Homo sapiens: one gene and its partner. Changing the gene in region 1 together with any one later gene gives a genetic interaction. Each region holds a gene or a part of one and is shown on either strand. Other genes may lie near its edges. The genes, in order: ATF6 and SP1.

Region 1 (3,820 bases):
GTAGTTCCCATAAGCTATTAAAATACGTCTATACAAAAAGTCTGACATTAATATGACTAGCGTATAAAGCAGGGGTATTCCTAAGAATTTGCCCTTAGCAGATCATTGACTATGTTTGAGTGATGGAAGATCTTACCTATAATAAGAAGACAAACTGTTCTTTTCTGAGCAGTTTATCAGTTCCAGAAACCTGAATTACACATTATTTGAAACTTCAATACTTTCCTGTCATCTGAAGACTATAGTTATTTTTTTGTGAGCATGTGCTAATATGAGGAACTGCACCTTGCCTGTTTTTTTTCTTTTATTTGAGACAGAGTCTCGCTGTGTTGCCAGGCTGGAGTGCAGTGGTGTGATCTTGGCTCACTGCAACTTCCACCTCCTGGGTTCAAGTGATTCTCCTGCTTCAGCCTCCAGAGTAGCTGGGACTACAGGCACGTGCCACCATGCCCAGCTAATTTTTATATTTTTAGTAGAGACAGGGTTTCACCATGTCGGCCAGGATGGTCTTGATCTCTTGACCTCGTAATCGCCTGCCTCGGCCTCCCAAAGTGCTGGGATTACAGGTGTGAGCCACCGCGCCTGGTGCCTTGTCTGTTTTTATAGTACAATCTAAATAGGTGGTATTATTATAATAACATACAGATTTAAAGTATGTTTTTCATTTATTTGAGAATGGGGAGGAAGAAGGGAAGTATGGGCAAGACATTATACAGTTAATCATGTTAATACTAGTAGTAAATATGTTACCATTGAAAAAGAAGAGGTAATTTCCACAGGTTTAAGACTGAGATTCTCTAGCTTGGAATGTAAAACTCTTCACAATTTGGCTCTAGTTTAGTTTTTTGTTTTTTTGTTATTGTTGTTTGTTTGTTTTTAATAGAGACAGGATCTCACTATATTGCTCAGTCTGGTCTCGAATTCTTGGGCTCAAGGGATCTACCCACCTTGATCTCCCAAAGCTCTGGGATTAAGGCGTGAGCCACCATGCCTGGCCTCCTAGTTTAGTTTTCGAACTTTATAATATTACTCTTTTCTATAAATCCCTTCTTCTAGCTCAACTAATCTGTCATTGTCCTTTGAATTCTCTTGTTTTTCCTAGTTTTTTGGCTCACCATTTTCTACCAACCAGCAACAACTTATGCCTACTTCTACTTCTCAGTCCTCCATGTCCTTTAAGACTGTTTTGAGTAGTGTAGATGAGAGATAATGAAAGCCTGGAATATCAATGAAAGTGGAGAACCAGGATGAAGAGTAGAGATGTTAAAAGTGTAGAATCTTAGAGATTGGTAATTGGATTGTGTAGAAGGAGGCTGAACGATAGAGAGGAAGGTGTCTAGGATGACTTCCGTTTTTCTATCTTGGGGCTTTTTGGGTAGATGATGGCGAAAATTATTGAAATGGGAGACAGAGGTAAAATATGTTGCCCAGATCACTCTGCTAATAAGAAGTGGAGCCAGAACTTGAGCCCAGGTGGTCTGGCTCGGAGTCTATGTGAATAATCACTATACTGTATCGCCTTAAAAAAAAAATGACAGATGTATTCCTTGCTCTCAAGAATTCTACACTTTAATTGGGGGATTAAATTCACATAAACAGTTAAATAACAGTCACTGTGATAACTAATAAATTAATAACTCATGCAGTGCCCTTATGGAAGCTATTATTATATAGAAAAGGAGATTAATAATAATAATAATTGCATTTAAGTTCTTACTATGTGCCAGACACTCTTCTAAGTGCTTAAGTGCATTATCTTATTTCAAATAATATTTACACATTATTTGAAACTTCAGTATGTTTCTATGATTTATGGTGATGGGTTGTGATATCTCCATTTTTTAGATGAGAACGCTAAGTACAGATTATTTGCCCTAAGTCACACACCGATGCTGTTTCAGACAAAGTAGGCATTCAATAAATGTTTGATACATAGTTTAAAATCTTTGAAGAAAGTTTAAAAGAAAGAACTATCAAAATCAGTGAGTTACACATAGTCAAAAAAATATATGGCATTGAATCCAGCCATGTTCCGTTAAGGGGGATTTGCATGTAATGCCAGAGAGGATTTTGAGCATGCTAAAATGGATAAACAGCCTTTGGAATGTCCTTTTTAACTGTTTCCACACTAGGAACAGTAGTAACTATGTTCAGCTGCTATTTAAGGCCCCAAACAATTCTTTGCATTGTAGTTTGTGGCCTGGTCAGCATTTACCAAGTCACCATGAGAGTTTTTTGTTCTTTCACTTGAACATATTGTCATAGAAATTTAGTTGTTTCCCCTCATTCTGTGTTGAACCCAAACATGCCTAGAATATTTAGAGTATCCCTGATTTAGCTGCTGGGTAATTTGAGGATAGTTGGGTACTCTGGGATGAAAAGGCTTGATACAATATGGGAAAAAAAGGAAGCAGCAGTGGCTTGGTAGGACTCAAGCCACATTTGGCCTTGCCTTGGTATTCTTCCATCTCCTTTGTGTGATGCGGTCGTCTCAGCAAGGAGACAGTGGTAATTACACAATTGGTAGTACAGATTTGGATTATTTTTCTTAATTAGTTTAAGAAATATTACAAAGCCCTCTGTACATGTTATCTGCTAGGGCTTTAAATCTGTAACTGTAGCTAGAAATAGGATTCTTTCTTATAAGTTGCCTAATTCATTATATTTACACCTCTTCTGTTCTTTAAAATAGTCCCAAAGTTCCCTGAACAGTGTTTAATTTTGGGGAGGGATCTTTTAATCATAATTTTAAACTCAGAGGATGTAGAACATGGCTTCCTATAATACTCTTCTCAAAGTATTGGTTTAAGTCAGTGGTTCTCAGTCTGTATATTGTGGACCCTGGGATGTGGGTGATGGGGGTAGTAGCTTTATGGCATTTTGCAAAGCATCTGCAAATCCATACTTGAAGCAAGCATTTTCTGTAGACCAAATAATTTATTTCATATATCTTTGTACAGCTCTTCAAATTTTTATAGCTATACTTCTGACTAATAAACTCCAAGTTCATTTTAAATCTTCACTAAATTCTTAGCAGCCTTTTTCCATCATGTATTTTCTCAGTACACAGAAGCTGAAAGGACAACCTTGATGGTTTTGGGTGACCAGGATATTATTTTATATTAAAAGAGAGCCCTTATATTCAGGAGCCTTTGGGGAGAGACTATGGGTTTTCTAGGTGTAGAATTATATCATCTGTGTGAGAGATGGTTTGACTTCCTCTCTTCATATTTGGATGCCTTTTATTTCTTTCTTTTGCCTGATTGCTCTGGCTATGACTTGAGCACTTGGGAATTCTTGTTTTTTGGTTTTTTTTTTCACATTATGATAAATATATATTTTCATAGTGCCAGATTTACTGTAATTTCTTATTGTTATTAAAACCTAACACTTGGTCATATGCTATTTACTTTATGTGTTTCTAATTTTTATTTGCGTATTTGGCCTAAGCATGTTTATATCTGCTTCTGAGTAATTTCTGCATTTTATATGTTTTTACTTCATAAAAGATGGAGGCCACCTCAAAACAAATTAGGCATCAAAGGAACATACCTCAAAATAATAAGAACCATCTATAGCAAGTCCACAGCCAACATTGTAATGAGTGGGCAAGAGCTGGAAGTACATTCCCTTTGAGAACCAGAACAAGACAAGGATGTCCCTCTCACCACTCATATTCAACATAGTGCTGGAAGTTGTAGCCATAGCAGTCAGGCAAGAGAAAGAAATAAAAGGCATCCAAATAGGAAGAGAGGAAGTCAAACTACCTCTCTTCACAGACGATATGATTCTATACCTGGAAAACCCATAGTCTCAGCCC
Region 2 (3,820 bases), on another chromosome or scaffold:
TGTTTCCCACCTTCAAAGAGGCACTGATGATACAGATGGGTGCCGGGACCCCATCTCCTCTCTTGTATCCCTCTCCTGATTCTTCTCAACACCATGCATTTTAATGCTTCATGGCTCTCTCTTCCATGTCTCTTGGACCCATGCTACCTTGCATCCCGGGGTTAAGGGGTATGGCCCATATGTCTCTGGCCCCGGGTGCCTGATCTCAGAAGCCATTGCCACTGATATTAATGGACTGCAGATCTGCCACCTGCATGACGTTGATGCCACTGTTGGCAAGACGGGCAATGCCCTCTGGACAGATGGCCTCCATGGCTACCATATTGGTGGTAATAAGGGCTGAAGGAGTGGCAGTGCCACTGCCTTCTGAACCTGCCCCACTGTCCAGGGGCAAAGTGCCCACACTCAGAGCTACACCTGGGCCTCCCTTCTTATTCTGGTGGGTCTTGATATGTTTTGACAGGTGGTCACTCCTCATGAAGCGCTTAGGACACTCAGGGCAGGCAAATTTCTTCTCACCTAGGTAAAGGAAGAAAAGATAAGAAGCTGACATGTTAGGAAGTGAGGTTACCTTACCCAATTCAGTGCTTACTCTACTAAGCTGAGTAAGGCCAGTATGAGAAGGTGATCAAAAACAAGAAAAATCTTCAAGTGGCTGGGCGTGGTGGCTCACGCTTGTAATCCCAGCACTTTGGGAGGCCAAGGCGGGCAGATCACGAGGTCAGGAGATCAAGACCACGGTGAAACCCTGTCTCTACTAAAAATACAAAAAATTAGCCGGGCGTGGTGGCGGGCGCCTGTAGTCCCAGCTACTCGGAGAGGCTGAGGCAGGAGAATGGCGTGGACCCGGGAGGCGGAGCTTGCAGTGAGCCGAGATCGCGCCACTGCACTCCAGCCTGGGCGACAGAGACTCTGTCTCAAAAAAAAAACAAAAAACAAAAAACTTCAAGTATATTTTCCTTTTGGCGGGGGCGTGAGGAAGAAAACTAGATAAAGGTTGGGGAGTACTCGGTAAGGAAGGTAGAACTTAGCAGTTTTAAAAGTAAGGCAGGGCAGAGACTAAGAGTAATGGTTTCAATGCTTCACCTTCAAAAATCCCACTCAAAATCTAGCTCCTTATTTTATTTTATTTTATTTTTTTGAGACAGAGTCTTGCTCTGTCGCCTAGGCTGGAGTGCAGTGGCACAATCTCAGCTCACTGTAACCTCCGCCTCCAAGGTTCAAGCAATTCTCCTGCCTCAGCCTCCTGAGTAGCTGGGATTACAGGTGTGCACCAGCACGCTTGACTATTTTGTAATTTTAGTAGAGACAGGGTTTCCCCATGTTGGCCAGGCTGGTCTTGAACTCCTGACCTCAAGAAATCCACCCACCTCGGCCTCCCAAAGGGCTGGGATTACAGGCATGAGCCACGACACCTGGCTCCTTCCTTTTTTTTTGAGACAGTGTCTCGCTCTGTCGCCCAGGCTGGAGTGCAGTGGCACGATCTTGGCTCATTGCAAGCTCCGCCTCCCAGGTTCATGCCACTCTCCTGCCTCCACCTCCTGAGTAGCTGCAACTACAGGCGCCTGCCACCATGCCCGGCTAATTTTTTTGTATATTTAGTAGAGACGGGGTTTCACCATGTTAGCCAGAATGGTCTCGATCTCCTGACCTCGTGATCTGCCCGCCTCGGCCTCCAAAAGTGCTGGGATTACAGGCGTGAGCCACTGCACCCAGCCCCTCCTTCCTTCTTAAAAATTTTCCAGATTAACTCCAATTCCATTTGTGACCCATATATTCAGTTTCAAATTAAGTTGCTCAGAAATTTTAGTTATTTTGTAGGTATATTTTGTGTTTTTCATTCTAGTCTATTACTATTTTTCTCTCCCATAGGCTCTTGCTCACCTGTGTGTGTACGTTTGTGCCTCTGTAGCTCATCCGAACGTGTGAAGCGTTTCCCACAGTATGACCAGGTACACATAAATGGCCTCTCGCCTGTATGCCAGCGCAAGTGTGCCCGCAGGTGAGAGGTCTTGCCATACACTTTCCCACAGCCTTGGATGTGGCAAATATGCTGTTTCTTTTTGCCAGGATCCCCCGAGCCCCTGAAAGTGAGGACACAACTGTTAATCATTCATTCTAGAGAAAACTAAAGAACCACAAAGTATCAACAGCAATCACCCAATCGACACCAAACTAACCCAAACTTTTATTTTTTGAAAAAGTCTTCTTTTTTGTTTTTTTGAGAGAGTCTCACTCTGTCGTCCAGGCTGGAGTACAGTAGCATGATCACGGCTCACTGCAACCTCCGCCTCCTAGGTTCAAGCGATTCTCCTGCCTCAGCCTCCCGAGTAGCTGGGATTACAGGTGCACACCACCATGCCCAGCTAATTTTTATATTTTTAGTGCAGATGAGGTTTCGCAATGTTGGCGAGGCTGGTCTCGAACCCCTGAGCTCAGGTGATGGATCTGCCCACCTCCGCCTCCCAAAGTACTGGGATTACAGGCGTGAGCCACTGCACTGGACCAAGGCTTCTTTTTTTTGTTCGTTTGTTTGTTTTGAGACGGAGTCTCGCTCTGTCGCCCAGGCTGGAGTGTAATAGCGCAATCTTGGCTCACTGCAACCTCCACCTCCCGGGTTCACGCCATTCTCCTGCCTCAGCCTCCCGAGTAGCTGGGACTATGGGTGCCCGCCACCACACCCGGCTAATTTTTTGTATTTTTAGTAGAGACGGGGTTTCACCATGTTAGCCAGGATGGTCTCGATCTCCTGACCTTGTGATCCACCCACCTCGGCCTCCCAAAGTGCTGGGATTACAGGCGTGAGCCACCGCACCCGGCCAAGCCTTCTTTTTTAAAAAGGTTTCTAGGGGCTGGGAGTGATGGCTCACGCCTGTAATCCCAACACTTTTGGAGGCCGAGGCAGGTGGATTGATCACCTGAGGTCAGGGATCCGAGACCAGCCTGGCCAACATGGCGAAACCTCATCTGTACTAAAAAATACAAAAATTGTTCAAGACCAGTCTTATCAACATGGTCCCCATCTCTACTAAAAATACAAAATTAGCCAGGCGTGGTGGCACATGCCTGTAATCCCAGCTACTTGGGAGGCTGAAGCAGAGGAATTGCTTGAACCTGGGAGGTGGAGGTTGCAGTGAGCCGAGATCGTGCCGTTGCACTCCAGCCTGGGCAACAAGAGCGAAGCTCTTTTTTTTTTTTTTGAGACAGAGTCTCACTCTGTCGCCCAGGCTAGAGTGTAACGGCACGATCTCGGTTCACTGCAACCTCCACCTCCCAAGTTCGAGCAATTCTCCTACCTCAACCTCCCAAGTAGCTGGGATTACAGGCACCTGACACCACGCCGGTTAATTTTTGTACTTTTAGTAGAGATGGGGTTTCACCATGTTGGCCAGGCTGGTCTTGTACTCCTGACCTCAGGTGATCCGCCCGCCTTGGCCTCCCAAAGTGCTGGGATTACAGGCGTGAGCCACCGTACCCGGATGAAGATCTGTCTTAAAAAAAAAAAAAGGCCGGGCGCCCCCATGGCTCATGCCTGTAATCCCAGCACTTTGGGAGGCCAAGGCAGGCGGATCACAAGGTCAGGAGATCGAGACCACCCTGGCTAACACGGTGAAACCCCGTCTCTACTAAAAATACAAAAAATTAGCTGGGCGAGGTGGCGGGCACCTGTAGTCCCAGCTACTAGGGAGGCTGAGGCAGGAGAATGGCGTGAACCCAGGGGGCGGAGCCTGCAGTGAGCCAAGATTGTGCCACTGCACTCCAGCCTGGGCAACAGAGCAAGACTCCATCTCAAAACAAAAAAATAAATAAATAAATTTTT

Evidence for each region.
Region 2: of ATF6 (region 1) and SP1, changing one enhances a phenotype caused by changing the other (phenotypic enhancement), as found in Homo sapiens cells (one study listed by BioGRID).

The regions. Positions count from the first base shown.
Region 1 is NC_000001.11:161,793,616-161,797,435, forward strand, and holds part of ATF6 (cyclic AMP-dependent transcription factor ATF-6 alpha), read left to right. Parts: intron 1-3,820.
Region 2 is NC_000012.12:53,407,626-53,411,445, reverse strand, and holds part of SP1 (transcription factor Sp1), read right to left. Parts: intron 2,085-3,820; coding exon 1,885-2,084; intron 520-1,884; coding exon 206-519; 3' UTR 1-205. UniProt on the Homo sapiens protein: Transcription factor that can activate or repress transcription in response to physiological and pathological stimuli.